Regions from separate parts of the Homo sapiens genome. Here region 1 is linked to region 2. Evidence: fine-mapped QTL for protein levels in blood plasma. A gene starts in region 2. The other region holds a variant in brackets. All regions are shown on one strand. Distances are between the middles of the regions.

Evidence for each region. PIP is the posterior inclusion probability: the model's chance that the variant is causal. Sun 2018 read protein levels with aptamers (SomaScan).
Region 1: its variant is fine-mapped to the plasma level of the QSOX2 protein (Sun 2018, PIP 0.95).

What each region holds. Positions count from the first base shown.
Region 1 is chr9:136,208,346-136,224,466 of GRCh38, reverse strand. It overlaps QSOX2 (quiescin sulfhydryl oxidase 2), which reads left to right. Exons shown (of 12, transcript NM_181701.4): 4 at 355-460; 5 at 614-704; 6 at 2,526-2,671; 7 at 5,303-5,437; 8 at 5,659-5,788; 9 at 7,745-7,867; 10 at 9,163-9,313; 11 at 13,015-13,203; 12 at 15,192-16,121. The coding sequence ends at 15,739. Among named protein-coding and RNA genes, the nearest start is that of LHX3, 11 kb to the right of the region's middle. RefSeq lists enhancers at 7,957-8,460, 12,257-13,033, 14,931-15,480, 15,481-16,032. The variant T/C (reference allele first, on the strand shown) is at 7,989.
Region 2 is chr9:136,237,356-136,253,476 of GRCh38, reverse strand. QSOX2 (quiescin sulfhydryl oxidase 2) reads left to right here and starts at 7,665. Exons shown (of 12, transcript NM_181701.4): 1 at 7,665-8,001. The coding sequence starts at 7,674. CCDC187 (coiled-coil domain containing 187) reads left to right here. Exons shown (of 26, transcript NM_001378188.1): 26 at 1-3,504. RefSeq lists enhancers at 4,776-5,630, 13,736-14,264 and silencers at 7,428-7,697, 7,728-8,137, 13,391-13,520.

The sequences.
Region 1 (16,121 bases), 29 kb after region 2:
CCTGGCCTGCTCCTCGCCGCGCCCTGGGGGGGCTCTGCCTGTGAGTGACCCAGTGGAGCCGCCTGGCCTGCTCCTCGCAGTGCCGTGTCTTGCCATCTGCCTCTGTTGCCTGTCCCTGTGGCCCACCCATGCTTGTGTCATTGCTGTGTGGTCTCCAGTTGTGTGAATCCAGCGCTGTCTGTACCACGCCTGTGGGTGGCATTGGGCACACCCATTGGGATTGCACATGTTGCTGCCACCTGCACCCTGCTGTCTTTGGGCCCCAGGCTGGGACGGGGCTGCTGTCCCTGGGTGTATGCCTGCCCCACGAGGACAGCCGCACACACAGCTCTGACCCTGGTGTGCTTCCGGCAGGACCTGACCGAGAGCTGCGAACAGTCAGACAGACGATGATTGACTTCCTGCAGAACCACACGGAAGGAAGCCGGCCCCCTGCCTGCCCGCGCCTAGACCCCATTCAGTGAGTAGCTCCATGAAGAAGGCGGCCGTTAGACTCGTGTTGAACTGTGCAAGAAACGTAATAGGTTTCTATTAAGTGATGTGGCCACTGGGATGTGGTGGCCAACTCGCTGCTGTTGACGGCACTAAAAGCCTCTTTTTTTCCTCTTGAAAGGCCCAGTGATGTTCTTTCCCTTCTTGACAACCGTGGCAGCCATTACGTGGCTATTGTCTTTGAAAGCAACAGCTCCTACCTTGGACGGGAGGTACGGCCTCTGCGTGGGCTCCAGGTGTCACACGTGGTGTGATTGGGGTTGGCGGTGGATCTGTGATGAGATTTGCAGGTGCCGGTCACTGTGTCGGCATCTCGTGTCCTGTCTGTGGCTTTAGGTCTTGTTCATTATCAGAAGCTTAGTTAATGTTACTCAGCAAAGTCACTGGTGTCTGGAGAAGACTGTTAGGATGAATGAGCTTGGCGGTGGGAGGGGTTCAGAAGGTGGCCTAACCCTAGGTTTGAAACTAAGAGGGGGCTTTGCAGAAGATCTCATTTTTATGACACGCCCAGCTCACCTTGAGGTCATTCTGTATTTTGTATGCATTATTACTAAGATTTTTTTCGTTGCCGTATTCTGAACTCTCAACATTTTTGCCAAATCCAAGATTCTGTAAAACGTCGTTTCTATCGTCATACTTTGATTTCACACGTACAGTTCTGAAGCCTTGCTTCTGGCCAAGTCTAAATAAGGTCCAGGGACCAGGTGCAGGGGCAGCTCACGGAGAGTCATTATTGCTGACAGTCTTCCCGGAGACGAGAGAAAGGCCTCACTGCACATGCGTTCGCCCAGCACTCACCCTGAGCTTCTCCTCCTCCTCCTTGCAACTTGATAGGCGACTGTTTTTCTGTCCACTGTGAGGGGCCTTGCGGTGAATGTAGGAAACAGCTTTGCCCCTGCGAGGGCTTTTGGAGACGCACTTGGGAAGGCAGCTGCAGACACCTGCACTGTGACCGTCTCGCTTTGTGCCCTGGCTGCCCTCCTGGCACCCCAGCACCGCCCCCTCCAGGTTTGATGGTGACGCCAGGCTGCCTCCAGATGGTTGGCCAGGATTCTCTGTGGAGGGCTGAGGAACCGCTAGCAGTGTGTGGCTCTCCCAGACCCCTCACCCCTGTCCCAAGGCCCCTCGTGCCCTTGCTGTCTCGGGCGGGGCCTCCACACACGCAGACCAGAGGCAGGTGTTCCCCTGAGAAGAGGCGGGTGTGGGACCGTCTTGGTGCCGGGCACGCTCCCCTACCTGCCTGGCATGCTGGTGCGTTCGGGGCAGCCAGGCTCCACTCGTGCAGGAGGAGTGCTCTTCAGCACAGAGTCACGGCATGGCCCAGAGCAGAGACCAGTGTGGCCCCAGAGTAGCGATCAGCTCTTCGCAGACACACCCAGCTCAGGAGAGGCACGGCCACGCGGGGCGCCCAGTTCACACCTTTAGCCAGGGCCCTTGGTTTGAGGAGCAGCTGGTTTTGTTCCTCTGTTAAGAGAAGGAAAGACGTACGCCCGATGTGGTGGTGGCGCACGCAGGGTTTCTTCCAAAATCCTGAGATGCCACTCCTGTGGTCTCTCTGCCACGGAGACCCTGTTGCTGCCCCTTCAGCCTGAGCAGAACCAGACAGGAGCAGGGTGGCTGGGGAGGAGCGGCAGCACGAGGCCTGCTGCCCCGGCCACGAAGCTTCCACACGCGGGACGGGAGTGCGAGGCCGTGGGGTGTGGCTGCTGTGTGCAGGGACTCACTTGACCAGTATCAGTGTTGTGGGGGGCGCGCTGGTTTTAGAAAGTCAAGTGCAAATTCGCGGATAAGTGTTTTCTTTGATGAGTTTGTAAAATTGCCGAATAAGACCGTGGTTTCTGCTCATGGCGTGTGTGCCGTCAGTTGCCTTAAAGTGCAATGAGAGTGAAGATTTGAGTGAGGGTCTTGCCTGCAGGGGGACAGACTTCATGCCCTTTTGTGAAAGGTTCCCTGCAAGGCCATGTGTCTGCACGTCGTGTTTTCTGAGAAACTGCCAGCCCCTGTGGAAGTGTCATTGTGTTCTCATCCCCCAGGTGATCTTAGACCTGATCCCGTATGAAAGCATCGTGGTGACCCGAGCACTGGACGGGGACAAAGCATTTCTGGAGAAACTTGGTGTTTCTTCAGTCCCTTCGTGTTACCTGATCTACCCAAATGGGTCGCATGGATTGATTAACGTGTGAGTGCCCGGGTGGGGTCTGGGAACTCCGTGCCGCTCGGAGTTACCGGACAGAGGCTCCGAGTAGACAGTGCAAGTCTGGTGTGAGATCGGGGGAGCCCTGGCCCCTCCGCCTCGCTTCCCTGGGCAGATTTGGGCCCTGGCTCTCAGCCCGTGGGTATTGCTGATCTGTGCTGTGTTTTCGTGGATTTCTGTTTTCTCACTGCTGTGTCCCCGCACCTAGGAGGAGCCTGGCGTGGTGACTTACCAAGAGTCGCAGAGGAAACCGTGGCTAAACCAGCACATGCATGAGGGCTGCTGGGCCGGGGCTTTGGGAGCAGCCGATGCTCCTAAAACCCTGCTCTGGGTGGACTCTTGGGATGCAGTTTGGGTCTGTGTCTGGGGCTGGCAGACAAGCCCACGTGCCCACCTCTGCAGAATGAGAAGTAGGGGTGGGCACCAGGCCCTGCCCCTCACGTTCTGCTCTTTCTCTAAGAACTGCAGAACCTTGGCAAGCCCTTTGCCTCTGCGTGGGGTGCCCGTGTGCCCCTCATGAGGATAAGCCCTTCGCCCCTGCGTGGGGTGCCTGTGTGCCCCTCATGAGGATAAGCCCTTTGCCCCTGCGTGGGGTGCCCGTGTGCCCCTCATGAGGATAAGCCCTTCGCCCCTGCGTGGAGTGCCTGTGTGCCCCTCATGAGGATAAGCCCTTTGCCTCTGTGTGGAGTGCCTGTGTGCCCCTCATGAGGATAAGCCCTTTGCCTCTGCGTGGAGTGCCTGTGTGCCCCTCGGATAAGCCCAATGAAAAAGTAAACAACTTGAATCAGGTTAGAAAAAGAACAGTGAGAAAAATGAGGCTGGGCACAGGTGAATCATTTGAGTCTAGGAGTTCCAGACCAGCCTGGGCAACATAGTAAGACCCCATCTATACTAAAAAAAAGACTAGCCAGGTCTGGTGGTGTGCCACTGTAGTCCCAGCTACTCAGGAGGCTGAGGTGGGAGGATCACTTGAGCCTCAAAGGTCAAGGCTGCAATGAGCTGAGATCCTGTCACCGCACTCCAGCCTGGGCGACAGAGTCAGACTCCATCTCAAAAAAAAAAGAAAGAAAATGAAAAATGGTTGAGAAAGTTAAGTAACGTCCTGAGGCTGGAGGGGCCCCGCTCCTCCTCACCTTGGGGAGAAGGACAGCGTGAGGAGAAGGACAGCGTGAGGCTAGCCTGCCCTACACTGGGTGGCCCCTTCCCCTGGCCTGAAGTTGCAGCACCTGCAGGCTTCCAGCATGTGCTGGTTTAGCCACGGTTGACTCTGCGGCTCTTGGTGACTCACCACGCCGGGCTCCGAGGTGCAGGGACACAGCAGTGAGAAGATAGGACGTGTTTCCTGTCTCTTGGGGCTTCCAGTTCAGCCTCCTCAAAGATCGACTGGGGCATAGAGGGCGCCTTACAGAAGCCCAGAACACCGCAGTTTCTTAAGTATTTTTCTTTCCTTTTGAAAAAGAGGCCAGGCTCACACCTGTAATCCCAGCACTTTCAGAGGCTGAGATGAGAGGATTACTTGAGCCCAGGAGTCTGAGACCAGCCCAGGTTGATAGTGAGACTCCAGCCTATGACAAATAAAACATTAGCCGGGCGTGGTGGAGTATGTCTGTGGCTACATCTACTCAAGGGGCTGAGGTGGGAGGATCATTTGAGCCCAGGAGGTTGAGGCTGCAGTGAGCTGAAATTGCACCACTGCACTCCAGCCTGGGCAACAGAGAAAGATCCTGTCTCAAAAATAGATAAATGAGTGAAAATACAAAAGATAAAGCTGGAATTCAGGGTAACCACAGAGGCCATTGAGCTTGTTGGGAGATGCTCTGAGTGCTTGGGGGCCTGGCTCTGCCAACGAGGTGGCCCATTCCAGGCCTGGGGCACAGCACTGCACTTGGCAGAGCGGCCTGAACCACTCCCAGATGTTTGTTTAGTGTTAAAAGTATCATCTAGACAACTTCTTAGTGTCAAATAATGTTAATATTTTTATAGATATTTTAATGTTTTTGCAAATAGCACTGCTACATTCTGTCTTTGGAAACAAGCTCCACGTCACACTGAAGTGCTCAATAATGGCATTGAGGGTGTCCTCAGAAGGCAGCTCCACCCTGTCCACACAGCGTGGGCACACAGGGGGCTCAGCTCCACCCTGTCCACACAGGGTGGGCACGCAGGGAGCTCAGGGGCCTGACATCAGGGAGGGGCTGACGTCCACCCCAGGCCCCGACTTCCAGATGCCTCACTCAGGGCTGGCAGATTGTGGGCGCGTCGGTGAAGGCTCTTAGGCGTGTTGGAAATCGCAGTCAGAATAAAGCTCATCTTGGCAGATGCTCAACCCAGCTTTACAAAACGCCTTAAGGTCCCCACAAACATAAATGAGTCATAGTACTTATTACAACTGGAACTGGTTGTAAATCTGTGGATTTGGTGTGTCTCCTCTTATCCCCCAGGTGGAAGCGCAGCCGGAGCCCAGGCGGGGTGTCAGCTGTTCCCACTGACTCCCATGCCCCAATAAATGCCCAAAGGATGAAAGGGGTGGCCCAGAGCTGTCCTGAATGCCACGGCTCCTACTTTAGGATTTTATAAAGGAGGCTCTTCTCACCTTTGCCCTCCCCTCTCTCACAGCGTGAAGCCTCTGCGGGCCTTCTTTTCGTCTTATTTGAAGTCATTGCCGGATGTGAGGAAAAAATCGCTTCCCTTGCCTGAAAAGCCACACAAAGAAGAAAATTCAGAAATCGTGGTTTGGAGAGAATTTGACAAGCAAGTGTTCCTCTTGAACTGAAGCCCCCGGAGACAGTGCGTGTAGACCGAAGGCTGCGTGCTTGCAGGGCGGGTTTACTCAGAAACCCACCCCAGCCAGTGAGGGCCGCTCAGGAGCCCTCCCAGGGGCCCTGGGAGTCCGTGGGGAGGAGCCAGGACAGGGAGACTTGCTGTGGAGGGAAAGGTTGGGCATTCCCTGACGCTGCCATATCCCGTCCTAGGTCGAAGCTGTACACGGTGGACCTGGAGTCAGGGCTACACTACCTCCTGCGGGTGGAGCTGGCAGCCCACAAGTCCCTGGCCGGAGCAGAGCTGAAGACGCTCAAGGACTTTGTGACTGTCTTGGCCAAGGTTTGGGACGGTGCTGGTCTGGGCTGCATGTGGGAATTTGGCTCTGCACAGAGTGGGCCCTGGGGGGCGTCGGACACTGCGGGGGCTCCGCCAGCTCCGCTGAGGTGCTCTCCACCTTGCTTTGTCGCCCAGGCCCACGCCCCAACTCATTCCACCCATTTCCCGAGTGCCTCCTGCGTCCACTGCTGTTCCCAGCACTGGGGCTGGGGCGGTGGGTGTAGAGAGGGGCGGGGGTGTGAGCCGAGCACCTGCTGGAAAAGCCCAGCTCTGGCTGCCTGGAGAGTAGATGGAGGAGGGAGCGGAGGCCCACACACACCTCAGCTGGCTCTCAGAGGAGCGCTGCACGGGGGCTGGGGGGAGAGAGAGAGGGAGAGGCAAGGGCTGTGCAGATCCAGGTGGGGTGTGCATCTGCCCCACCAGCCAGGTTCAGGGAGGGGTCCTGGGAGCTTCACGCTCAGCACCATCACCAGCACAGATGTGGTGTCTGAGACCACTGAGGGGGTCGCCAGGAGCGGGCAGAGATGCCACCCAACAGAGCTCAGGCCTGGCCGTGCCCAGGGTCAGGCTGAAGAGGACCAGCCAGGGAGGTGGCCAGGTGTAACTCCATGAGCTCGGTTGCTTGTTACTGTCTAAATGACAAGAAGGCTTAGGCTTAAAATATTTATCTTGCCAAAAATAAGATGCATGATAGAATAATTTATAGTGAGCACTTTGGATAGAGTTTACTTACAAAGTGATTTGTGAAAAGTACAGGAAATCTTGAAGGACTGGAGGTGCCTCAGATGAATGCATGAACATTGCCCAGGCAGCTTTTTCCCCCACGGTGCCATCCAGAGTTCAGAAATCTCTAGCTGGCCTCATTTCCTTTAAGAAAGTGTCCTGCTAATCTGTCCATCATATTAGTGGAGGACAGTGTGGCTCTTAGTGGTGGTGGCCGCCGGCCAGCTAATTCGCTGGAGTCGCACAGCTGTCGCTAGGCAGACCTGCTCTCCTCTCCCGGCTTCTCCGTCTTCCCCTTAGTCTAGTTAGGCTTGGAGCTTTTACACTTGTGCTCTGGGCAACTCCTGAGGCCAGGGTATTAATAAGTTATTCTTAATATTTTTCTGAAGTTTACTTGGATGTCTAAAATAAATTTGATTCTGGTAAATTAATCATGGTACTTTTTAACCTGCACGGGAGAAAATATATTGGACTGAGCTGAAGATGCCGGCGTTTCTGGTCTGGCATCGCCACCTGTGAGCTTCAGCTCGGGTTTGAGGAACTCTTTTGGTGGCTGGTGTTTCTGGTCTGGCATTGCCACCCGTGAGATTTCAGCTCGGGTTTTCGGAGCTCTTTCGGCAGCCTATGTTTTGCACAGTTTGTGGTGCAGCAGCTGATCAGAGTTTCTCCTAAAAAGACAGAGCCCTGGGATCTTCTCAGCCAGACGCCTCCCCAAGCTGTGTTGATGTCGGCCAGCCTCACGGCCCACACAAGCCCATAGGCAGTTAGCCCCGGCTGCCGGCGCATGTGCACTGCCGCGCGCCCTTCATACAGTCAGTGACGGCAGAGGGGAAGCCCAGCGGGCGGGCAGGCGGGGTCAGCACAGCTCCTCGTGAGGAAGGCAGAATAAATCAGCAAGCCCCCGCCAGCTCCATGATGAGTCACACACCGTGACCTTGCCTGTCACCTGGCCGGAGCGAGGCCGTGGGCGCAGGTGGGTGAGCTGCAGGCACGGGCTGGAGAAAGGCATGGCCGTGGGCACAGGCTGTCCTGGGGAGAGGCGCAGGCTAGATGCCCACCCCATGGCCCCTTGGGTTTCCTGCCTCCCATCAGAGAAACCCGAGTTATGAGAGGCCCCATCCTAGGTTCAGCCCCTCTGCGGATGGAGTGCTTCTCTTTGGAGGTGCGGTGCCCCCCGCGGTGGGGGCGGGCCCGGGTTTGGGTCTGTAGCTCTCAGGTGGCTCCTTCCTCATGCAGCTGTTCCCTGGACGGCCGCCAGTCAAGAAGCTGTTGGAGATGCTGCAGGAGTGGCTGGCCAGCCTTCCCCTGGACAGGATCCCCTACAACGCCGTGCTTGACCTGGTCAACAACAAGATGCGGGTGAGCCCCAGAACCCTCGCCAGCCACGCTGCACCCTCCTTCCCTCGCCTTCCTTCCCTTGCCCTTAGCTGGTGCATCTCCCTGCTCGGGGCCCGGGCTCCGCTGTGAGGAAGGGGAGCAG[T/C]GACTTACTGTCTCCACGACAGCATCATGGCCATGGCCTCCTGTCTGCCTTGGCAGCGTCATGCTGGGACTTCAGTTTAAGGACAGCTCACCAAAAGTGCACTGTGACCACCTGTCCTTTGGACAAAATGGGGTTTTCTCAAGCAACGTAGTAGTTGGGCTTTTTAAATTTTTAGTAAGCCAATCTGACGAAAACTGATGTATTCAGTAAGTGTGGCAGCCTTTCCAGAGCTTTCCCCAAGACCAGGTGCCAGCAGGTGCCAGTCTTTGCTCAGGGGACCAGCACCCCAAGAGGTCCTGGCACTCCGTCCTGCCATTCCCTCCTTAGTCCAGATCAGCAGCTTCTCTGTGGCCCCCAGAGTGTTTACTCGCGGGCAGTAAACCCAGCGTGCTGCTTGTCCGACGCCCGCGTGGTCAGTGCACACAGCAGATCTTCTGGGAATCCTGTAAGGTGCACTTGTCGTGCCGTGATTTTGCCAGCTTTGTCATTTGCTGGCTGCAGCTGAGAAGCAGACGGTGCCGGGCTTCTTGCCTGAGTCTGTCTTCCACCTTGACTCTACTCCGAGCTCGAGGTCATGGGAGCACTCTCACGTGACTGCGACGTGTGACATCTCCCTCGAGAGCACGTCCTGGGCTCAGGAGTCCTTAGGGAGGAAAAGGTTGATGAGACACGAAACCAAACCCAGCGGAATCTGCCTGGGGCTCTCAGCCCTCCCAGTCCAGCAGTCACCCACTCTGATGGCCACCCTATTGCTTTTTCAAAGTGAACACACCTTGTTTGTTCTGGCCAAGAATTATTTGACAGTTGAGCTTTTTTCTGTTGTTAGTTGCCTTTTCTCTTAATACTGTCCTTACAACTAATTCTAATTTAAAAGAAAAGGTGGATACATTTTATGCTTAATATTACTGGTTTATCAAGATACAGAAGAACTGTCTCTTCAGAGATTGGCTTGAGAGCTCCTTTAGTAAAGGAGACCATTTCCTCTCTTTTGTTTTATTGAATTTAAATTTGCATATGGTAGGAGGCACAGATCTTATGTGTACAGTTGATACAGCTTCAGTAAACCACACCCCCATTATCCACCCCCCCCAGTCAAGAAGGCAGCTGTCGACTGTTTTTAATTTCAACAATTATCTTTTATTCTTTGGGGTTTTTTTGTTTGTTTGTTTTTCAGATTTCTGGAATATTCCTTACTAATCACATAAAGTGGGTTGGATGTCAAGGAAGCCGATCTGAGTTGAGGGGTTACCCGTGTTCTCTCTGGAAACTGTTCCACACTTTGACTGTTGAAGCCTCGACCCACCCAGATGCACTGGTTGGCACAGGTAAGCTGTGCCCATACAGGCCAGAGGGGCCGATGGTCTGCCTAACAAGTTAACCCAGCCGGTGTGTGCAAAGGCATGTACTGCTGTATGGGAGGCAGCATGTCGCCAGGCCACTGAGGCAGGGGAATGGCACTTCAGACTCCTCTCACACGGTCAGCTCACCCAGGGCTGTGGCTGCGGGGGCACGAGTTCCCCTTGTCAGAACTCGCAAGGATGTGCATGGCTAACGTGCAGGAAATAAACCATAAAGAAGAAAGAGTGCTGGCTGGGAGTTTCCCTGCAGTGTAAACTCCCTGTTTTTTGCTTTAAAAAGACAGAATAAGTGAAATCTGTTTGGAGAGGTGTTCTCATTATCAGCTGTTGTATAACAAATCACCCCAAAATTTAGCAGCCAGAACCACGGGAACCACGCACGGTTATGAGCTCATGGTTTCTGAGGGCCGGGCATGGCCTCATCTGGGTCCTCTTCTTCAGGATTGGTCAGGCTGCAGTCGGAGTGTCAGCTGGGCCTGGGGGGTCACCCAAGGCCCACCTGGGGAGAGTGGCTTCCCAGCACCCTCATGGGGCAGAGAGCAGGGCCTGCCTCCTTGCACGTGGCTTGCCTAAGGCCCTGAGCTCCATGCTGGCTGTTGACTGCAGGCCACGCTCAGGGCCTCTCCATCGGGCGGCTCACATCATGGCAGCAAGCCTCATCAGCAAGCCAGTGAGAGGGTGCCTATCCGAGGATGATATTCCATCACCTCTGTCAGATTCTGCTTACTAGTCAGTCCCCAGGCCCAGGCCACTCGCAAGGGGAGGACATTACAGGAGGCGTGAGTATAGGTGGTGTGATCTGTGGGGACCGTCGCAGAGGCTGCCCACCACAAGGGGTTAAAACCTATAAAACTTCGAAGTTGGATTTAATAATTTTCAATTACTAGGAAATAGATAAAAACAAATTTTCTGTCCTTCACAGAACACTAAAGTATGTATTGGATTTTTTATCCCCCCTGAATTTTGTTGTGTGTGTGCTTCCCAGTTGAAGCAGTAATTCAGGTTCATTAATGTTTACTTCAAAGCCGAAGTGGAGTCTTGACTCACACAGTTCAACGCTCTTTCCAGTAAGATTCTCAAATTCCTTTACGGTTATTTTTTGCCACATAACAAACTAACCTAAAATGCTGGGGCTTAAAGCAGCCACCACTGTTTGCTTATCATGCTGTGGATCAGCAGTTTGGGCTGGGCTCGGCTGGGCGGTTCTTCTGTGAGTTGCTGCTTGGGCTCACTCGTGTGTGTCTGCCTTCGTCTGGTGGCAGCTGGTCAGTCCAGGGGACCTTGGAATGCCTCGTACTCCTGAACGTGGCTTCCCCACCAAGTAGCACCAGGTTCAGGCAGGACCCCCTGAGAGTCCACCTCAGTGTGGAGTCACATATTATTACTTCTGCCGCATCCTGTTGACCCAGCCTAAATTCGTGGTGAGAGAAATAGATTCCACCTGTTAATGGGAGAGTGTCCCGGGATGGGGGCACTATAGTGGCCTTCTGAAAATCTGTTTTGGCCCTCCTCAAGGTGATATTGGATTACTGCTTCTCGGGGGTCTGGTTGGGGGAGAGGGTGGGTTTTAACCTCAAATCCTTTTCATAATCATACAGAAAAAAAGAGTAGTATGTTTTTGGGGAGAAACCTTGGGAGCTGTCCAAACAGAAATTGAAATCACAGCATCCACACTGCCTGATCTAATGCCCAGCTAGACCATGCAAACCTGATTCCGACCGAATGCCCAGCCAGACCATGTAAATCTGATTCTGAGCTGTGCACAAGGCTCACACCTGTAATCCCAGCACTGGAGGTTGCAGTGAGCCAAGATCATGCCACTGCACTCCAGCCTGGGCAACAGCAAGACTGTCTCAAAAAAAAAAAAAAAAAAAAAACACAACAAAACTGCTTCTGAAGCGTGAGCCTGAGTTAGGAAACCTCACGTTTACACATGGAAAGTTCTGGTGAGGAGATGAGCTGACATGCCATCCCCCTTTCCGTCTGCTCTGATCACACGGGCACACGCAGGCATGAGGAACGGCTCCTTGAAGGCAGTGTGGGTACAGTGTTGGCCAAGGGGAGAAGTTGAGTGACCGGGGTATTTGATTTTAAACTCTTCTAGGACCAGCCCTAGTGTAGTGGAATTGTAAGAGCAGTGTGATGGCAAAGCACACTGCTAGCAAGACCCTCAGCGCTCCTTCCGCCCATCAGCATATTGGAAGCAGCCTCCAGGAGTAGCCTCCTGCCAAGAGAATTGGGTCAGAGGCGACCACGGGATTAAGTCTTGGAAGGTTTTTCTTCTCTTTACTGTATGTTTAAGCCCTATCTAGTAAAATGCCTGTGAAGGCCTCTAATCCTCCCACAGGTAGAGGTTTATGGTTCTTGTCCACTTTAAAGATTAGGGTGGCCCCGCGCCTGCGGTGATGTGGGGAAGAGGAGGGGGATTACGTGGAGATGCAAGGCAGATGTCTGTGGAGCCCTCCCGGCAGGAGAGCAGGGCAGACGGGCCGGGTCACAGGGCCAGCGCCTGCGGTCCCATCTGAGACACCGCCCAGCTGCCCGTGGACACGCTCAAGGCTGAGGAGGAGGTGGTCTGCTCTGCTCTGCTCTCACCTTTCTGGGTGAAATAAACAAGAAGTGTCGGGATTTGGGACCGACCAGGACGCTGAGGTCAGGGCCTGCACGCAGCTGTGTTTTGCAGGGAGCCACGACAAGCGTCAGGCCTGCACTCACGCGGGAAGCTCCCCCAGGGCCTGCTGTCGATGAAGACGGATTCATTCGCGAAAGCATGTCTTTTTTTAATGCTGACATGTAATCTGTTTTAATCTCATGGGTCTCCTATCTGTGCGTTCAAGCTCCTGTGTCAGTCGTCTGAGTGGGGACTGCCGAGCCCCGCCCCATGCTGCCCCCTTGGTTTTCTCAGGGGTTCCCCTTGGTTGCGGTGCTGGCTGCTTCCTGCCACCTGTGGGCAGGTGTTGCTTTCTTGAGATGTGTGTTGTTCATTCACAGTATCTGCGGAAGCGCCCCGGCCTGTCCATGTCTGTTAATACGTTCGGTGGCACAAACTCTGGCTGTGGGTGCACCCGTCCCTGTGCCTGCCCACCTGCTCCACATCCTCACGCCCGTGGCTGGCGGCAGCTTAAGAGTCACTTCCTAAGGCCGTGTCCCCACTTGGGCTGGTGTCCTGCAGGGCTTTCAAACGCGACAGCTGCAGGTTTAGAATGAGCAGAGTCATTGCCCTGGTACCAGCCCCTGAGAGTTGCTTGTAAGGCAAGAGAGACTGCACCCAGCTGGCAAATCCCGGGGAAGAGCGGCACTCCGGGCGTTCTGGCACAGACGGCTGGAAGACTGGTGGGAGGTGGGAGGCGCCCCTGGAAGGGCTCCTTTGGGCCCTGGCGGCCGAGTCCGTGGCTCATCCTCCTGGCACCAGGGCATCTGGGGAGCATGTCCGCCCTCTGGGCTGTCCACAGTCATTGTGTCTCCAGAGCCTGCAGCACCCGTGGGCGTGTTGGACATCTTGGCAGGTGCTGGCTTCTGGTCTGTGCCCACAGCCTGAGGCCCCTGGGGAGACATGAGGTGGCTTCCCGACATGTCAGGAGCGGTTTCCCCCCAGGCTCTCTGGACAAGCGTGGGGTCAGGTGATGCCCACGCACCTGCCGTTGTCAGCAGTGTTTCTTCCCCTGCAGGCTTTGAAGACGACCCCCAGGCTGTGCTGCAGACAATGAGGAGGTACGTTCACACCTTCTTTGGGTGTAAGGAATGTGGTGAGCACTTTGAGGAAATGGCTAAAGAATCCATGGACTCGGTGAAAACCCCAGACCAAGCCATCCTCTGGCTGTGGAAGAAGCATAATATGGTGAACGGCCGCCTGGCAGGTGAGAAGCCCCTGGGCATGGGGGGCTCAGCACGGGCGGAGGGAGGCCCTGGTCCTGGGACAGCAAGGACGGCACGGCTGCCGTGGGGCTTGTCCCTGAGCTTTGCGGCCTCGTGCCACCCACTGTGCTGACGGGATCAGGACTTGGGTGGCTGAGAGCTGCCAGAGCTGCAGCCTTTCCCAGGCTGCTTCTGTCCCCGGCTTTCTAGATGCTTCTCTCACTCCGGGGGCTCTTCGACCCCGTGGAAATGGGTGTGGCTCTTTCTTCCCCCATCGGTACCCACTGGTAGCCCGTTAGACTCTGAAGATGTTTTTGACTCTGGAAAGCTTGGAACGTAATTAATTTTTGATGAGGAATTTTAGTAGTATGGAAATCTGTTGTCCAAACGTAAACCAAACCTCTCAAAGTGCTTTGTTTTGTTAAAAAAAAATAATTAAATAGGGCACATGTATTTTCTCAGAGTTAAGTACTTCAAACTGTTCCTAAATCAGTGGCAGATTAAAATTAGGCTTAAAAATAATTCCACTGAGAAATCTTAATAGAGATGAATAGAAAATGCCACTAAACTATTGGTTTTTATTTAATCCACTGTGTTAGAAAAACATATTACAGCTGAAGCACTAAAGAAATTGGTTTTTCTTTGCCCTGAGCCTGACTGCCGGGGCCGGGGTCATGTGACGAAGGCGCTGTGTGTCTGCGGGGTTTGTTCCCTCGGTCAGCGCAGCTTCTCCGTCTCTCCGCCCTGGCAGCCTCTGCATCGCCGCCGCCCACAGAGCTCCCTGTGCTTTCCCCGAGCCCTCGGCTCTGAGGCAGTGGGACCAGGACCCTCGCCAGGCCTGCCTGGACCTGGAGCCCCTGCTGCTACCTGTGGCCCCAGCCCGCATGTGCCCCCACTACCCCAGTCATGAGACTGCAACAGAAAGGGGCCTTACAGCCCAGTGTGATTGTCACTCCTGAGATTCCCACTCCAGTCCCACCTCCAGCCTGTGCATTGAGACCCAAGCTCCTGGGAGGCCCCTCGGAGATGTGCCTGGGGTCTTCTGCCCAGGGCTGGCGCCTTATTTGACAGTCCTACATGAAGCTCTGGCAGCTTCTGACCAAGGTGCCACTGGTCTGTGCTTGTCCCCTCTGGCTTCGTGTGCAGCACCTGCTGCCGGTTGGCCGGATAAGCACGCAGTCAGTGACTGGCCCGAGTAGGGCATCTCTTGATTTCAGGCACGTCTCAAGTCCCCCAGACAAACGTGGTTGTGTTTACATTCACTTCTGGAAGCTCTGTGAGGGTGGCCAGGTGTCAGCAAGTCGGGTCGCAGGGGCTCCGAGAGCTAGGAGGCGCCGTGCGCCGCAGCTTCTGCATGACGGATGCCTGTTGGGCCTGGAAGTGAGCACATGTCACTTCAGAAACGAGTTTTGGAGATCTTGAAGGGATTTGTAGTCCGGAAAGGGCCAGTGTACCTGAAGTGCAGTGGAAATTCATTGCTGCCCCTCTGCCCTTTCCTGAAGGTGCACCTAAGGCCCACTGTCCATAGCACCCAGGTGGCCGGGGCTCTGTAGGTAGTGGGCCTCAGGTGCACCCTCAGGAAAGGGCAGAGGGGCAGCAGTGGGGGGAGGGGCACACAGGCAGCACTGTGCGGAGAAAGGCCTCCAGGTGAGAGCTGCATGCTCCGTTTTGGAAGTGGAGTGCTGGGTGGTTTGGGACAGGTGTGGTCTGGGAAGTGGCGGAGGCCGAGCGTGTAGCGTCTCCTCACTTGCAGGCTATGGGAACCGGCAGAGGGGAACACGTGCGCAGGGGCCTGCAGAAGCAGGATGTTATCTGGGCCGAACTGCAAGGGACGGGTGGTGGGAAGGGCAGGGAGGGAGGCCTGGCAGGACCCTGGGCCAGGGCAGTGGAGGCCCGTGGTGGGTGGGAGTGGGAGTCCGGTTGCCGCACGCTGCACGTGGCTGCACAAAGCCTCCTTCCCTCTGGCTCTCCCGCTTCCTTTTCTTCCTAGGCCATCTGAGTGAGGATCCCCGGTTTCCAAAGCTTCAGTGGCCCACTCCGGACCTCTGCCCAGCCTGCCATGAGGAAATTAAGGGCCTGGCCAGCTGGGATGAAGGCCACGTGCTCACATTCTTGAAGCAGCACTATGGCCGCGACAACCTCTTAGACACGTATTCCGCAGACCAGGGGGATTCCAGTGAAGGAGGAACCCTGGCCAGGGGTGAGGAAGAGGAGAAAAGACTCACTCCCCCAGAGGTGTCCCATGGAGACCGAGACACCCAGAGCGTCCGTCCACCTGGTGCACTGGGCCCCAGGCCTGCCCTTCCAGAGAGCTTGCATCACAGCTTGGACGGGAAACTCCAGAGTCTGGATGGGCCCGGGGCCCACAAGGAGGTGGGCGGGGCCGCACCCTTCCTCGGGGTTGACTTCTCCAGCCTGGACATGAGTCTCTGTGTCGTGCTGTACGTGGCTTCATCCCTGTTCCTCATGGTGATGTACTTCTTCTTCCGGGTGAGGTCCAGGCGGTGGAAGGTCAAGCACCACCACCCGGCCGTGTGAGTGCCCGGGTGCTGCCAGCCACGGCGGAAGCTCCCTTGGAGGCAGCCCTGCCCCGTGCCACCTGCAGCTTTAATATTTATGATCAGGGATTTTATAAACATGCGGGCCTGGTTTCACATCGGATGGCACCTTTTGGCTTCAAAGTCCTGGTTTTACAAACGCTCTTCTAACAAGGGAAGAACACGGGGTAATTTTGTGGGGATATTTGCATTCCTGGCGTACTCAAGTCTGTTCATGCTCCTTTTGCAGGTCTTACAGCAAAAAGACTTCTGTATTTTTACTCTTCTAGATGTGAAAAGAGGGTGCAGAGTCCAGGCCAGATAGTCTTCCCCACACACTTTCATCTCGTTTCCTCCACTCCGCCCCATCCTGCAGGGCCTTG
Region 2 (16,121 bases):
TGGCCAGGGCACTCGTCGTGTGAGGGGTCAGGCAGTGCCCCTGGAGGGCTCCCAGGGCCATCAGTGCAGCCCCCAGCTCCATCCAGAGTGGCCTCTGTGGCCAGGGAAGGTCTGTCAGGGCTGTTGGCAGCTGGTGACGTGGAAGTGATGATCGGCGGACTGGGCTCCTGTTTTGGGCACAGGGTTCTGGGCTGATGTGGCCTTTGAGGAGGTCTTGGGCAGTCGGGGAGAGCCCTGGGAAGGAGCGCAGAGCTCTGGGCATGCAGAGAGCCGGGGTGGGTAGCGGGGCAGCTCTTAGTGGGTCTGGATGAGCTCCTGGACACTGCCTCACCTGCGGCAGGGTCCCTGGGCAGCCGAGCCTGCTTGGCCAAGACCCCCACCAGGGGCCAAGACCCCAAAGAAATGCTGGGTAAGAACAGGAAGGCAGCCACACCCCCACAGGCAGCCACACCTCCATGTCCCTGGTTGGCAGCCCCGGCAGCCTCTCTCCCAGGCCAAGTGCCCTTGGCCGCCAGTGGAAAGTCTGGGTCCCTTGAGCATGCTGGTGAGGACGTTGAGGGAGGCCTGAGCTGCCAGGTAGAGGACCCACCCAGGCCCGAGGGCTCACTGGGCAGAAAGCCGCTCCTGGAGACAGACTCAGGCCGCTGTACCCATCTCCCAGGTGTGGAGAGAGACCAGGCAGTGGACTTGGTCTCCACGTGGCTCACCAGGAGGGTCCTGCGTGACTCCTTAGCAGCTCTCTCCACACAGGCCCCCAGGTGCAGCCCCTAGGGAGTGTTTTCTGGAACTACAGAGGTGCACAGGCGTCCACAATGTCATTGTGAGCTGTGTGTGGCATACACATGCACACGTGGGAGTAAGAACCTAGAGGCCTGGACTTTCCCAGGGTGGACCGGCCGGGCGGCCGGCTGTGCGGGACAGTCTCCTGGACCTTTCCCCGGTGGACCGGGTGGGCGGCCGGCTGTGCAGGATGGTCGCCTGGACCTTCCCAGGGTGGACCGGGTGGGCGGCCGGCTGTGCGGGACGGTTGCCTGGACCTTCCCCCGGTGGACAGGGTGGGCGGCCGGCTGTGCGGGACGGTTGCCTGGACCTTCCCCTGGTGGACGGGGTGGGCGGCCGGCTGTGCGGGATGGTCGCCTGGACCTTCCCAGGGTGGACTGGGTGGGCGGCCGGCTCTTCCCAGGGTGGACCAGGTGGGCGGCCGGCTCCGCAGGACGGTCGCCTGGACCTTCCCGGGGTGGACTGGGTGGGCGGCCGGCTCTTCCCAGGGTGGGCCGGGTGGGCGGCCGGCTCTTCCCGGGGTGGACCGGGTGGGCGGCCGGCTCTTCCCCTGGTGGACAGGGTGGGCGCCGGCTCTGCGGGACGGTCGCCTGGACCTTCCCCTGGTGGACGGGGTGGGCGGCCGGCTGTGCGGGATGGTTGCCTGGACCTTCCCAGGGTGGACTGGGTGGGCGGCCGGCTCTTCCCAGGGTGGACCAGGTGGGCGGCCGGCTCCGCGGGACGGTCGCCTGGACCTTCCCGGGGTGGACTGGGTGGGCGGCCGGCTCTTCCCAGGGTGGACCAGGTGGGCGGCCGGCTCCGCGGGACGGTCGCCTGGACCTTCCCGGGGTGGACCGGGTGGGTGGCCGGCTCTTCCCCCGGTGGACAGGGTGGGCGCCGGCTCCGCGGGACGGTCACCTGAAGCCAGGCCCGGACTGCACACCTGCTTCTTCGCATCAAAGCCACGAAGAGGCGTCCAAGAAAAGGCGTTGCAGCCCAGAGGCAAGAACAGTCAGAGTCGCCAAGAGCAGGAACGAGGACGGGGCGGAGCAGCGCCTATGCCAGGAAGGGGGTCATGGGGATCAGCGAAGGCCAAGAGAGGAAGAGAGAACATCTGGGGAAAAGAAGAGCTGGGGTGGGCCTGACTGGTGCTGACTCACACCCCTGAGCCCTGCTTAGAAGTCAGGGGCATCTGCCTGCTTTGACTTTGGAGGCTCCTCCCACACCCAAACTGCCGGCACATGACGTGCAGCTGGGTGGACTGGGCATGGATGTCTCACACCTGAGCTGCACAGACCAGAGGAAGCCACGGCTCAAGGGCCCAAGGTCATTTCTGCGCAGCCCGCACGGCCGGGGGCTTTTCCTCTGGGGATCAGTGGCCCAAGGTCTCTTCTGGAGCATGCTCAGGACTTGCTGTGCCTGGAAGGCCAGGGCAGCTGATTTCTCCTGGTGCCATGGACTTTTCTTTGCTTCCAGAGGATTCACTGGGACCCCTGTAATTTCTCTGGGACCCTTTTGAATCTGAGGGTCTCTTCTTGAATGCGGAGTTGATGAGCAGCGTGTTGGCCTTAGGGACATCTGTGTCCCAGCACTGATCCTTCCAGGATGTGGCTTCTCCTGTCCAGGGCCTCAGGCCTCCTCCACTTCAGAGAGGAGCATACTCCAGACTTTATGCATGCAGTCTGGTGGGAGGCATCACAAAGCTGGCGTGGCAAAGCCCTAAGATGCCAGGTCACAGGACACACGGAGCTGCCAAGGCCCTCTACCCCATAGCTCTGGTGAGAGACCCCAGGCCCCTTAGAACCTCTTTGGGCCCCCTGCCGTGAGGCAAGAGCCCCTCTCCAGACACCCCTCGCCCGGGAGCAGCTGGACCCAGCCTGCCTTCTCCAGCCCCGGGGCGGCTGCTTAGCCCCAGGTGCCGTTAACAATGGCCGGCCTGTGTCAGGGTCCCCATTCACCATGTGCACAGGAAGCCCAGCTCGGGCCATGCATCTGATTTTGCACCAGCTCCTGCCCAGCCCACCTGAGAATGCAGATGTTTGGATCCAGTGGGGAATGTGTTCCTGCTCCATGCTCCCAATTTCAGAACAAACTTTGAGCTGAGCTACAGCTTTCTCATTGATCCCCTTCTAGTCTTCTGAACAAATTAGTCTGTGATTTTTTATTTTTTTCCATTTATTGCTGACCCTTTTGGATTTATGAGGCCGTGTGAGAGGAATTATGTATCTCACACACACGCATCTGGCATGACGATAAATCTCCACCACTGAAGCCCCGCAGATTTGCAGCGAATCTGATGGCTCCCAGGCTCGCTGCCACGTGGTTGGTGCTGACGTGCGGCGCAATGCGGTGGCGGCTGCAGTCACAGCTGGAACCAGCGTGACTTTCCCTGGGAGCCCAGCAGGTGCCTCGCGTCGCTGGCAGGTGGTAGGGTGCCCTTGAAGGGGGCTGGTCGTGAGGAACGAAGGAAAACCCGGGCCAGGGCTTCCAAGGACAGCGGCCCTGGAGGGGGCCGGAGCCGTCAGGTTACTCTGAGCACCGGAGAAAAAGCCGCTTCAGCAGAGGTGTAAACGCATTTAATCTCCCAACAGGACATATACAGAGCGGAGGGCTTTGGCATTCAGATATATTGACCGGGCAAGATGGTAATCCAAGGTTCCTCCCCTTCAAGGTCTCCTGCTGTATTTGCCTGGGCTCTGATCTGTCGTCACCGCTTGGGCCAATAAATCTTGATACCAGCCTCCAGAGAAGTCATTATCTTTCATAGAAAATGATTATTTCTCAGTTAAACCCTACATTTAATTTTCCCGTGATCTGTCTCTTTCAGCTTCCCTGCTTAACGGTTCCCTCCTGCATAAAATGCCCATGAACGTGTCCGCAGTGCTCCGAGTCCCAAATCATCAGACAAACTTTACGAGTCCCTTTGATTCCCTGCCCTGCGTGGCCATCACGGCCACCCTCATAAAACACGCATGAAGGCCGGGGGCCCTTTATGAAAGGTGGCGGCCGCACACTTTCCTGGGAAGCAAAGCCTCCAGGCACCCAGGGCGCTGGGAGAGCTCACTCACTGCCCAGGCGGAGCAGGGTCCCTGCGGGTCATTTTCTCTGTCCCCAGGGTCGAGCTTGGCCCGTTCATGCCCAGCAAAGCCAGGCTCACAAGCCGTCCTTTTCCCAGCTCCCCAGGCAGCTTTGGGGTCCTGGAAGAGTGTTGGCAGGTCCCACAGCCATCCCATGGTGCCCTGTCCCCGCATGGCAGCATCAGAGCTGGGAGCGGAGGATGGGATCACACACACCCCCTGGCCCTGGCCCTGCCCCGGGGCTCCCAGCCGCCCTTCTCCTGCCCGCCACTCACCATGTCCATCAGGCTGTAGCCGATACAGCACCAACCACACTGGTGCTGGGAGCCAGCTCGGGCTCTGAGGCTGCCTGGGCCCTGCTCCACCTCTCCCTAGGGGTCTGGCAGGAGCCCCTGCCCCCAGACGTGCCTCCATGTCCACAGTCCCTGGAGGGTGGCCACCCACCTCCTCATGGTGTCCTAGTGAGGACATGAAGAATTGTTCCCTCAGGCACTGTCCCGGGCACGTCGCCAGTGCTCAGGGGCTGGCACAGGTGTGCAGAATTTTTCCTCAGAAGTTTTCCCAAAATGGGTGGTGGTCGTTAAGCAGCTGAGCCCTCCATGCCAAACTCCTGCTAAAGGGGGAGACGTGGACAGCAGGGCAAGTCCTGGAGCCGGGGCCATTGAAATCCATTGGGCCTCATCTCTGCTCTCCCCATGTGGAAAGGGAGGCGGCTCAGAGCTGGGTTCTGTCTTTGTCTCCAATGCAAGCATCAGAGTGGGCCCTCCTGGGTTCTGGGAGGCACGTGGGCCTGAGGCCCTCCTCTCTGTCACATACATGCCATGTGCCCTTCACCTCACACAGTAGTCAGCCCTCTGAGCCTCAGTTTCTCCCTCTGTAAAACAGGAATATCAATACCTGTTCCACGATGGGTAGGCCTCTGCAAACCTGCCCCAAAGATGGAGGAGGCTGAGAGGCAGAAGAAAGAGGCTGACAAGTCCAGTTTCTCAGGAAGAAACATTTAGTAGGGACTTACAAATGGAAGCCACATCTGTGTCTCTGGAGGCACCGACAGACGGGATCCCGCCACCACCCCCAGGCCCAGGGCTTATCTGCCATAGGGGAGGCTGGTTTAGAAGGAACGTGCAGAAACCTGAAGCAGACAGCATCAAGGCTTTGTGCCCTAAGGGTGGGATTTACGGCAAGTACCTGCTCTACACAGGGAACAACAGATCAACTGGAAATCTTGGAGGCCTTCCCGGAATCAGGCTCATCAGGATCCAACACAGCAGATTAGGTCCAAGATGCTGCTGCCTCAGCCTGCACAGTGCCTTATCTCATCATGTCTGAGATGTGATCTCCCCGCATTTTGATCTCTTTGAAGCCAGAGCTGTCTCTGTCAGGGCATCTGAAAATGGCCACTGGCCGCGTGTTTTCTCGCTCCGCGGCACGCACGCTAACCGCGCCTGCAGTCACCTGGCCTTTGCCACAGCGACGTGCGATGCCTCTCCTGCAGGTGGGGTGGGGGGCAGATTTCACGCAGGCTTTGGGCAGGATCTGGCTCAGCACAGACAGCTCTTACGTAGACTCCGAGATTCAATCCTAACCCCTTCCCCTCCCCCGCCCTGCCTTAGATGGGAGAAACTCTGGTTGTTTTGGGGTGTGGCCTCTAAGTGCTGGGCTAAGCTTGGTCCCAGGGGTGGCTCCGTTTCACCGAGCAGGTTTGGGGTGAGGTGTTGCCCCGATGTTCCGAATGTGCCCCTCCAGTTGGGCTCATGACGTCCTCTGTCTCAGCCAGATCAGCCTCCTTTCCTCCACTCCTTGTTCCCCTGCCACCTCGCTGCTGCTCCTTCTGGAGGCCTGGGGCTCAGTGTGTGGCCCTCCCCTCTGTCCCACAGCCTCCCCGGGGGACCTCAAGCAGCCTCAAGCGCTGAGCTCCAGACTCGACTCCCACTTCTAAACCCTGACCTGACACCTCCCTTAGAGGTTGAAAAGGCTGCTCAGATGTAACAGGTCCAAAGCAAACTCATGGCATCCTCCCCAGCATAGCTCTCCCATCTCGCCGCTGCAGGATTTAGTCTCAGCCGTAAGCAACCCCATTCCTCTGGTTGCTTTGGCCCAAACTCTGCGAATGTGACACCCTCTGCCTCCACCCAGACTCAGCCGACCCCTCCACCAGCACTGCCTCTCACCCCTCCCCGGAGTCCCTCCAGCTTGTGGAAGGAGGCGGCGGCCCCTCCCAGGTCCCCTGCTTCCCCTCCTGCCCCTCCTACTCTGCAACTAGAAGGGCAGAGCTGCATCCTTGCACCGATCCTTCCGTGGCCACCCCCCCATTCAGCATCAAAGTCTGAGTCTGCGGCCCAGGTTGTGAGGCCCCCTGGGTCTCGCTCGGGCTCTCAGCTTTTCTTCCCTCCCACGCTTCCCCCAGCTTGCTCCGCTCCCACCAGGTCCGGCTCCTTGCTGTTCCTCCAGCGTGCTCAGCACCCTTCTGCCCCAGGGCCTTTGCATGTGTGCCTCCTCCCTCACCTCCTTCTCCATTCGGGTCACCTTCTCAAAGACCTCCCCACCCTCCTCTGTACGGCAGCCCTGCTGGCACCTGCTTCCGTGTCCGGCTTCATTGCTTTTCATAGCACGCGGTGGCTGCTTTACGCGTTGGTTTGTTTGGGGTCTGCCCAAATGCAGGCCAGGGACACTGGGGGCTCGGTTTTGTTCTTGATTTGTCTCCAGGGCTTGGCACAGAGCAGAAGCCAGGAAACGTGGGTGATGGAAGGAAACATGAACAGGGAGACGCAGGACGTGAGGAAAAGGGAGCAGACGCCTTGGCCAGGGGCCCTCTGGGGAGAATCCTCTCATCTGGGGTTAACCATTGTTAGCAGCAAAACCTTTTAAACAAAATCTTACACAGAACCCCACAATACAGTTATCTATTTATTTTGAGACAAGGTCTCGCTCTGTCATCCAGGCTGGAGTGCAGTGGCAGAGTCACGGCTCACTGCAGCCTCAAGCTCCCAGGCTCAAGCCATCCTCCACCTTAGCCCCTCAAGTAGCTGGGACTACAGGTGTGCACCACCATGCCCGGCTTTTTTCTTTTTTTTAAGAGATGGGCTCTCGCTATGTTGCCCAGGCTCGCCCACTCCCTTGTTTTGTTTTGGTCACACAGTTCAGAGAAAATCTTGACATGTGTAAAAATTAGGAATAGGAACAAAAAAAAAAATCAGGTATCCTGTTCAATGAAGCAAAAAAGTCATATGATTTCATTTCCAAACCGTGAAGCTGCATTCGACTGGAACATCCTAAAAGGTAGCACACAACACATCTGACTTTGAGTGGATGTTTTGCTGCATTTTCTAAGCGTTCCAATATCATATTAAAAAGTCGAGGCTGGCTTGCAGACCCTCTGAAGCCCCAGGTGGGGTTGCCAAGTAAAAGAACCCCGGAATAGTTTTTTACGTCTAAGAATGTCTTGTTAAATTTGTATTTCAGGCATGGCACAGACCTAGGCTGAAAAACCGACTCACTGTTTGTCTGAAATTCACGTTGAACCTGGCGTCGTGCACTTCCATTTGCTAAATGTGGCCACCTGGCCCTGTTCAGGGAAGGGGTTTGGGGAACGCGCGGCGGGGTGGGGCGGGGCCTGGGCGGAGCCTGCCGCGCCTGGGCGGGGAGATGGCGTCATCAGACTCTTGGGGGCGGGGCTGCCACGCATGGGCGGGGGCGGGGGCGGGGAGAGAGGGCGGGGTCAGACGTGAGGGGGCGGGGCGGAACAGAACTGGGCGCGCGGGGGCGGGGCCGGGCGCGCCGGCGCACGTGACGGTGGTTGCCAGGGTGAAAGTTCAGCGCGCCGGCGGCACTTCCAACATGGCGGCGGCCGGGGCGGCGGTGGCGCGCAGCCCGGGAATCGGAGCGGGACCTGCGCTGAGAGCCCGGCGCTCGCCCCCGCCGCGGGCCGCACGGCTGCCGCGGCTGCTAGTGCTGCTAGCGGCGGCGGCGGTGGGGCCGGGCGCGGGCGGTGCGGCGCGGCTGTACCGCGCGGGCGAGGACGCCGTGTGGGTGCTGGACAGCGGCAGCGTGCGCGGGGCCACCGCCAACAGCTCGGCCGCGTGGCTCGTGCAGTTCTACTCGTCGTGGTGTGGCCACTGCATCGGCTACGCGCCCACTTGGCGGGCCCTGGCTGGGGATGTGCGAGGTGAGGCGCGCCCCCGCGCGGGGACCCCCCGACCCCCGGGACCGCGGCCTTCCGGGACCCCTTGCGACCGCCCCAGAAGGCGGGTCCCGGGGCCCCTCCCCCGTATTTCTTTCCTTACCGCAGAGCCAGTCCCTGCCCCACAGAGGCACCCGACTCGGACCAACCCTGGCCTTTCCAGGGGCGGGAGACTAAGCCAGCTGCTCCCCATGTCTCTCCCAGTTAATCCCCGTTAGATCCTGACGAGTTGGGCTGTCTGAAGTCAAAATGAAACCATTCTCCCGCAGCCCTCACCGCACGCTTGGGGATAGGGAAGCCCTCCCGTATCCCAGCTCTCAAAATACCTATGTTTTGAGCCCCAAGAACTTCATTGACCTTCCAGGCCTCCTACCCTACCTGTTTCCTAGCGTCCACACACCCCATCCCCAGTGCCCAGAATTCCTGTTCTCTGAGGATCCCTCATTCCTATTCCACACTCGTAGCCACCCCATTCCCTTTGAACCTTCATCATTAACTTTCTGGTTCGGATCGCTGGCCATATAGTGGGTGCTCAAAGTGAACCCACAACTTAGAAGTCCAAATACTCTGGAGACTTCTCTATAATACCCCAAAACAACCTATAAAGCAATTTTTTTAACTCTACAAAGAATTTCATTGGTGGGCTCCTTGATCACAGATGCACAGCCTTTGAGAAATCTTTCACCAAACTGCTGGTAGTGTTCCGCACTTTATTGTTTAGTGCTTTCATCTGGTCGCACGTTGTTAACCAGTCACGAAGTTACTCGCCTGCTCTACAGGTTAGAGTTGGCGTGGGAGGGGGCATTCACAACACCCTTCCCTTAAAATGGTATTTAAATCACTGAAGTAGGAGGTCCTCCCGACCCAGTGAGGTTTGGCAGGACTTCCTGTGTTGTGCTAACCTCAAATTACATGTTTCAGTGGGCAAGATCTGTAACAAATTGCTACTCTTTCTTCCTGCACCTTTGTTTTTATGCCTTACACCCAATCCTGCTGTATTTTTCTCATCGCAAACAGATTTGTAAAGAAACTTTTTTTCAAGTCTAAGTAGGGCTTTTGTATGTTACTGTAAATGGTTATCTTTAAAATGCATTCTCCTCTTAGAGAGCTGGGGCCTTTTGATTCTAATGGATTCCTCCTCTTTGATCTCATGTTTTCTTATGTCCCTGTTGACCTGACTCAGAACTGAGGTCAGAGACTGGAAGAGATGGACAGAAAAACTGTTCAGTGGGGTTTTTAGACACTGCTTTTAGGAAAACAAACAAGTAATTCAATCACGTAGGGAACCCTTCAGTTCTTGTGTGTTATTCAGTGGCAGAAACAGATATGTTCATTAAAATGCAGGTGGCCCTGGCAGGACTTGGTCACTTTTTTTGTGGGTTTTGGTTTTGATTTTTTTTTTTCAGTTGAGTCGCTGAAGTCTAAAGATCGTACCAGATTCAAATATTGCAAATTCTGTAACCGAAGCAGCACATAGGCAGCCTTGAGAACTGTCCCTGGAGCTCAGAAGGAAGGCCCCTCCTGAGAGCCACACAGTAACGTCCATACCCAGTGGTGTGATGAACTCAACTCAGTAAGCCTCCTTTAGTGAGGCTGACTGTCTTCCCAGTCACGACAGGAAGAACAGGCTTGTGCCTGAGACTGAGACTGGAGGAGGATATGGCTGAAAGTGAAAGACAGCGGTGACCTGACCAGGCAGCAGGGAGAGGGCTTCAGGGAGCCCAGGCAGAGGGTCCTGTTGGCTAAAAAGCCAAACTATAAAATACTGAAAGAGGTTTGTTCTGAGCCAATAAGTGTAGTGGCCATGGCCAGGGGAACAGTGTCAAGAGGTCCTAAGAAAGTGTGCTCTAGGCAGTCACGTTAATTTGATTTTATACATTTTAGGGAGACAGAAGTTATAGGCAGAGAGACATAAATCAGTACATGTAAGGTATAGGAAGGGGTAGGTTTACAGATCATAGGTGGATTCTGACTGGCAATTGATTGAAAGAGTTAAGCTTTGTCTAAAGACTTGAAGTCAGCAAAGAGAAATGCTTGAGTTAAGCTAAAGGGGCTGTGGAGGCCAAGGTTAAGTAGATGAAGCCTCACAGGCAGCAGCCTTGGGGAGAATAGAGGGTAAATGTCTCTTTTCAGACCTGAATGCTGTCAGACTCGTTAAATGTCTCCTAGATCCAGGAAAGACCTAGAAAGGGAGGGAGATTCTCTACAGATGCAAATTTCCCTCACAAAAGACAGCTTTGCAGGACCATTTCAAATATGTCAGGGAAATAAATGTATTTGGGGGTGAAATATTTTGATTTCCTGCAGGGTGTGCTATTTGTCATGTGGTGCTGTACCCGAGTCAGGCTGGAGTTTGGTGTCGTTGCTGCTGAGGCTGTGCTGTCTGTCTGTGATCTCTGTTTCATCACGCTGGTCAGCTCTGCCTAAACTCCAAAGGGAGGTGATGTAACCAGGCGTGTCTGACCTCCCTTGCCGTCAGGGCCTGGAATTTCTTTCCTCAGGTTGCCCTGGGGTCTCCTTGGCCAAGAGGGGGTTCAATTCAGTCAGTTAGGGGACTCAGGATTTTATTTTTGGTTTACAGTCCTGAGAGCCAAGCTGTGCCCATGAGGCTTGTGGGAGGTAGAGTCCGGGTAGAAAGGGATGAAAGGCCCTTGGCACTGAGGAGTCCCCGGAGCTGTTCTAAGGCTGGGACTCTCAAAGTAGGGCCACTTAGGGCCTTGTTAGAAATGCCTGCTTCTCCACAGCCCCAGCCCAGACCTGCCAGCTCAGAACTGTCTGCTTGGCGCCTGGCTCCCTGTCTGTCATCCCTGCGTGGAGCTGTCCCACAGGGATAGGGCGCCCATTGCCCGTGGCAGTGCAGGGGTCTGGCTGCATGCAGGCATTCCCGTTGTCAACATTCTCATGTTTTCTTATGTCCCTGTTGACCTGACTCAGATCAGTCACCTGTGGCCCTGATCAATCACCTGTGACTTAGGTCATCCTGCTGATCCCCTGGGGGCACACAGGCCATGGCTTGGGCCCCCACTTCTACCTAGAGTGTCCAGCCGCCTTCTCCCACTGGTCCCCCTGGCCAGCGCCCGCCACGCCCTGCGTTCTTCATGCCTGTGGCTGCTGGAGAGGATGGTTAGGTGTGGGCTCTGCTTCCCAGGAGCCTCCAGCTGGAAGGAGCAGGACAGGCCAGGGCACCTTTGTTTTCCTCAGAAATTTGGATTGAACTTTAGCTCTTGACTGGCTTTTTCAAGGCTGGGAAAATAAATGTTTTTTCTTATAAGAAGGTGGCTTAAGAAACAAAAGTTGTACTGTTTGGTGTGACCAAGTGTCATTCTAGTGTTTGTGGAGATTTGGCTTAAGCCTGTCACTTCTAAGTACTTTGCAGAACAAAACCTTGTTGGGTTCCTGAAGATCTGCCTGGCAGTGATGGTTGCTGGGTTTGTGATGGAAGATGAGGCACCAGGGCCTGGGGCTACACTTTGGCCCGTCTGACCGGTGAGATCTCCGAAATGCCTCTGCAGTCTTGAGTGGACAAGAGGGTGCACCCTAAAGGCAGGGCCTGTGTCCCCGTGCGCCCTCTGTGGCCCTGGTGCCTGTTCCCTCCCATCTCCTTCACTTGGTCAGCCTGAGAAAACAGGGCAGGCCACCACCCACAACAGGCTGAGTCCTCCTAGACCTGCCCTCAGGAGGGCGGGAACGCTTATGTTGTAGATGATAGCACATGAGGTTGCGTGGAACAGGCCGAGTCCTCCCACACCTGTCCTCAGGAGTGCGGGGGCGCTCATGTTGCAGGTGATAGCACGTGAGGTTGCGTGGGATAGTCACGGTCACGCAGCTGAGTGACAGGCCGGGATGGGTGTCCAGGTGTGGGTGACCTGGAGCCATGGCAGTTCATTCCTGTGTCTTTGTAGAGGACAGGTGGGGGTTGGGAGCTGGACACATCCGACATCTCTTGAAGGAAGGGTAGGGCATTCTGTGATTGCTGCCAGCTCCTCTGTCCCACTTGGTCTGGTTTCTTGTCTACTCGACTAGGCTGCAGGCTTCTTGGAGATGAATTAGAACTTGGTGTTCCCCACAGGCTCATTGTCCGTTTACTGGAAAAAGAAACAATAAGGGCCAGAGGGAGGGGGACATGCAGGTGTCAGCGGGCATTTGGCGGGGCTGACGGCCCGTGAGAGCTGCCAGGTGCTCACTGGACTCGGGAGGATGGAGAGGGTGGAAGGAGGAAGAGTTGGGCAGTGGAGGCCTCCTGTCTCCTTACGGGCCCAGAAATGGCTTAATGTAGCCCCGCTGTGGCGACCACATGAGTATTTTACAGAAAGGATGGTGCATCGGAGCAGCCGGGCTCCCCGCTGGCCTCCCCAGTGGCTGTGGTTGGTGCGTCTGAGACTACACCGAGAGACCCAGGCCACTTACTTGTTGTTGAAGTAAGACGGGATGGTTTGCTAAGAGGGCCTTACAGCCACGTCCAGGGAGCCGTCTCCGCTGTGTCATGCCGGTCGTCGTGCCATGGGGTGACCCAGGTCATAAGCACTGCTTGGGCTTCCCTGACAGAGGACGGGCTGAGGGACTGTCATTCCCTACCAACAGATAAACAGCATTGGAATTGCTGTCACCTCGGAGCACCCTTCGAGGCTGAAGAACGTGTAGTTTTGGTTTACCAGAATTGAGTTAAATGCTGGGGATCAAGAGTCCATGGGACCCAGCCCTGCCCTCAGTCCCCAGATGAGGCGACCGTAGCGTGTGCCCGGGTTTTCTCAGACCAGCCCTTGGCAACTTCTAGGTGATTTGTGTTAGGCTCTCCTGGTCGCTAGGTGGGTTTCATTTCTACCCAGGCCTGTTATTCCAAACTTGTGCCTTGAACTTGGAGCTTAGCTAAGAAGACCTTTGCTCAGCCAAGAGGGGGCTCCACCCAGAGAGGGTCTTCTCCAGGGACTGGTATGCGGAGTTCGAGACCCCAGCATGGCCCTGACTCAGGAAGGAGAGGCTGCAGTGGACCTCTGTCCCTTAAACACAGCTCCCTAGTTGCCTTTCAACTTGGGAGATTGTTTTATCTTTACTGTAATCATTTTCTAGAACGATTTGATACTGGACTATACATTAGACTTCTGTAGACTTTTTCATTAGAACGTGACAAGCAGTAAAGAGTTAACCTTGTTAGATTCAGTATTAGAGTTATTTGACAAGCACATTTGAAATAAATGTTAATCTACTATATATAGAAGCTTAATTATTTCCCAAGTATTTTTAAGACTGGAGTCCTAAAATAGCCAGGCTCTTGAGCAGAAGTGAGAATAGGCCTGCGGTCTCATTTCTGCCTCCCTTTGGAACCCCCTGGCTGTGCTGGGTTGGGCACCCCCGCCCCTGCCACACCCTGTGCCTCTCAGCTGGCTCTAACCCCAGAGGCCCAATGAAAGCAGGCCATTTGCATTCTGCTTTAGAGGTTCAGAGCTAGACAGGTGGGCAGAGCAGGAGAAGGGGAGGGTACCCGTTGAATGAGGCCAGTGCCCTGAAGCTAAGCCTTTTACGTGTTTTGTATTTGATTTGATAATATGGACTACCATATCTTTTGTGTTGCCATGAATACCGTCCATCTGCCGAGTCCTTGCCGGTACTCCTGGCGCCTGTTCAGCTGCTGAGGGAGGCCTGTGTAACTGAAATTCTCCCTCATCTGCTCGGCCTTCCCTGAGCACACGGCCTGGCATTCTTTCAAGGACAGACAAAGGCGACGTGGGGTGCCCGCATGCCCCTTCACCAGGACTGACCCTGAGTGGGGTGGTGGTGTTGGGAGCGTAGCTCTACTGAGGCAGGTCGAGGTGCTGCCCCTGCGGACTGGTGGATGGAGCTGGACTTCCCTCGCCCTGCAGTGTGTGCAGGGGCTCTGCGTGAATTCACGCTCCGGGATGAATTTGCGCTGGAAATTCATCTGTTGGAGGAACAGCAGGGAACAAAGCAGGGAGGTCCCCACCTGAGGAAGCCTGTGCTTTAGAGGGAGTAGCAGACAGTCAACAGGAAGACAAATAAAACAAGGAAGTGGCCGGGGCAGTGGCTCCCGCCTGTAATCCCGGTACTTTGGAAGGTGGGAGGATCACTTGAGCCCAGGAGTTCAAGACCAGCCTGGGCAACATAGCAAGATCCCCACTCCTGTGGCCCCAGCCACTTAGGAGGCTGAGATGGGAAGATCACTCGAGCCCAGGAGGTTGAGGCTGCAGTGAGCCGTGATCACTCTCCTGTACTCCAGCCTGGGTGACGGAGTGAGACCTGTCTCAAATTAAAATAAATGAGTTACCTATAGGTTGTAACTCCTAGAAAAATGAACAGACCAATTAGAAAGAAACTGGAGTGGCCCTGGGTGGTAGAGCAAGGCGTCAGAGGGCAGCGACTTGGGAGAGGAGCCACGAGGTGAAGGCCCTGCCAGGGGCATGGCCAGCACAGAGGACCCGAGACAGCCAAGACTGCAGTGTCCAGGGGACCTTTTGTTTTAGAGATCGGTCTCTTCGTGTGGTCCGGGTTGGCTTTGAACTCCTGGGCTCAAGGGACCCTCCTGCCTCAGCGTCCTAAGTAGCTGGGACGATGGGCAGGTACCACCACGCCCGGCTAAAAGGACTTTGATAGGGTCTTGGTCGCTCAAGGGGGCAACCACGAGGTCCCTGAGGGCCCGGCAGCAGGCAGATGCAGGCTCAGTAAACGGTGCTTGTCTTCTTCCTGAGCAACAGAATGCCAAAGAACAATTTTAAGCAGGGAAACCTGGTTTCTAGGTAAAACTCTCTGGCTGCTCTCTGGAGAACTGAAGACCAGAAACCAGCGGAGCACAGTGGGATGTGTGAGAGAGGCCAGGCCGCGCGTGGCAGCTGGGGCCTGAGGGGCAGAGGGAGGGTTGGCACAGCCAGGTGGGAGGAGGCTGCCCGCCGGGCTTGCTCAGGGCCTGGATTGCGAGGCGGGAATGAGGCCCGGGGAGCGTTGTCTTTGGAAGGCCAGCTCAGGGTTCCCTGAAGTGTGAGGGATCCTCGGGGAACAAAGGGGAAGTCTGTGCCTTCCTGGTAGAATTGTGGTTTCAGGTCATGTAGACAGTGTTTGGGCAAAAGTTACCGAAGGCCATGTCTTGTCTTCTTGGAGCATGAGAGGGTGCAGGGAGGTGGGCACGCACCTGAGATGCGGAGCAGCGTGTTTCGCTCCTGCCCAGGGCACGGCTCTTGTTCCTGGCCCCTGGCTGATCAGTTTCCCCGTCTGACTAGTTTTCTGCATCCTGTTGCTAAGGAAATATTAGGTAAAACCTGGAAATAGGACAAAAAGCTGAGTCTTGTGTCCTCTCAGCATCATGTTGGGGTGTTGCACAGGCTCGCCCAAGGGCTGTGACCTGGGGCACGGACATCTGTGTGTTTATCCTGCTGTTCACTGCTGATTAAGGGCCCAGGCTCTGTGGTTACTCGTGAGCTCGCCGACCTCATCTGTCTGGTAGACAAGGAAAGCCCAAAGGTTGTGGTTTTCTTGCCCCATAGGACAGTTTCTTTGTGCACTGTCCCTGGGGGCAGATAGCACTATTCTCTGTGCTCCCCACCTGGCCTCACCCTTTCCTTCAGCAGTCCCAGTGGAAGAATGTTGTTGACGCATGTTCACTCTGCGTTTGTGTGAGAATCGTGTGTTTAGCTTTTGGAAAATTCTACTTGGACACTGGCACAGGACGGGCTCCAGGTGACACTGGCACAGGATGGGCTCCAGGTGTGGCACAGGACGGGCTCCAGGTGACGCCGGCCCAGAGCAGGCTCCAGGTGTGGCACAGGACGGGCACCAGGTGATGCAGGCCCAGGACGGGCTCCAGGTATGGCACAGGACGGGCTCCAGGTGACGCTGGCCCAGGATGGGCTCCAGGTGTGGCACAGGACGGGCTCCAGGTGACGCCGCCACAGGACGGGCTCCAGGTGTGGCACAGGACGGGCTCCAGGTGTCGCCGGCACAGGACGGGCTCCAGGTGTCGCCGGCACAGGACGGGCTCCAGGTGTCGCCGGCACAGGATGGGCTCCAGGTGTGGCACAGGACGGGCTCCAGGTGATGCAGGCCCAGGACAGGCTCCAGGTGACGCCAGCCCAGGATGGGCTCCAGGTGTGGCACAGGAC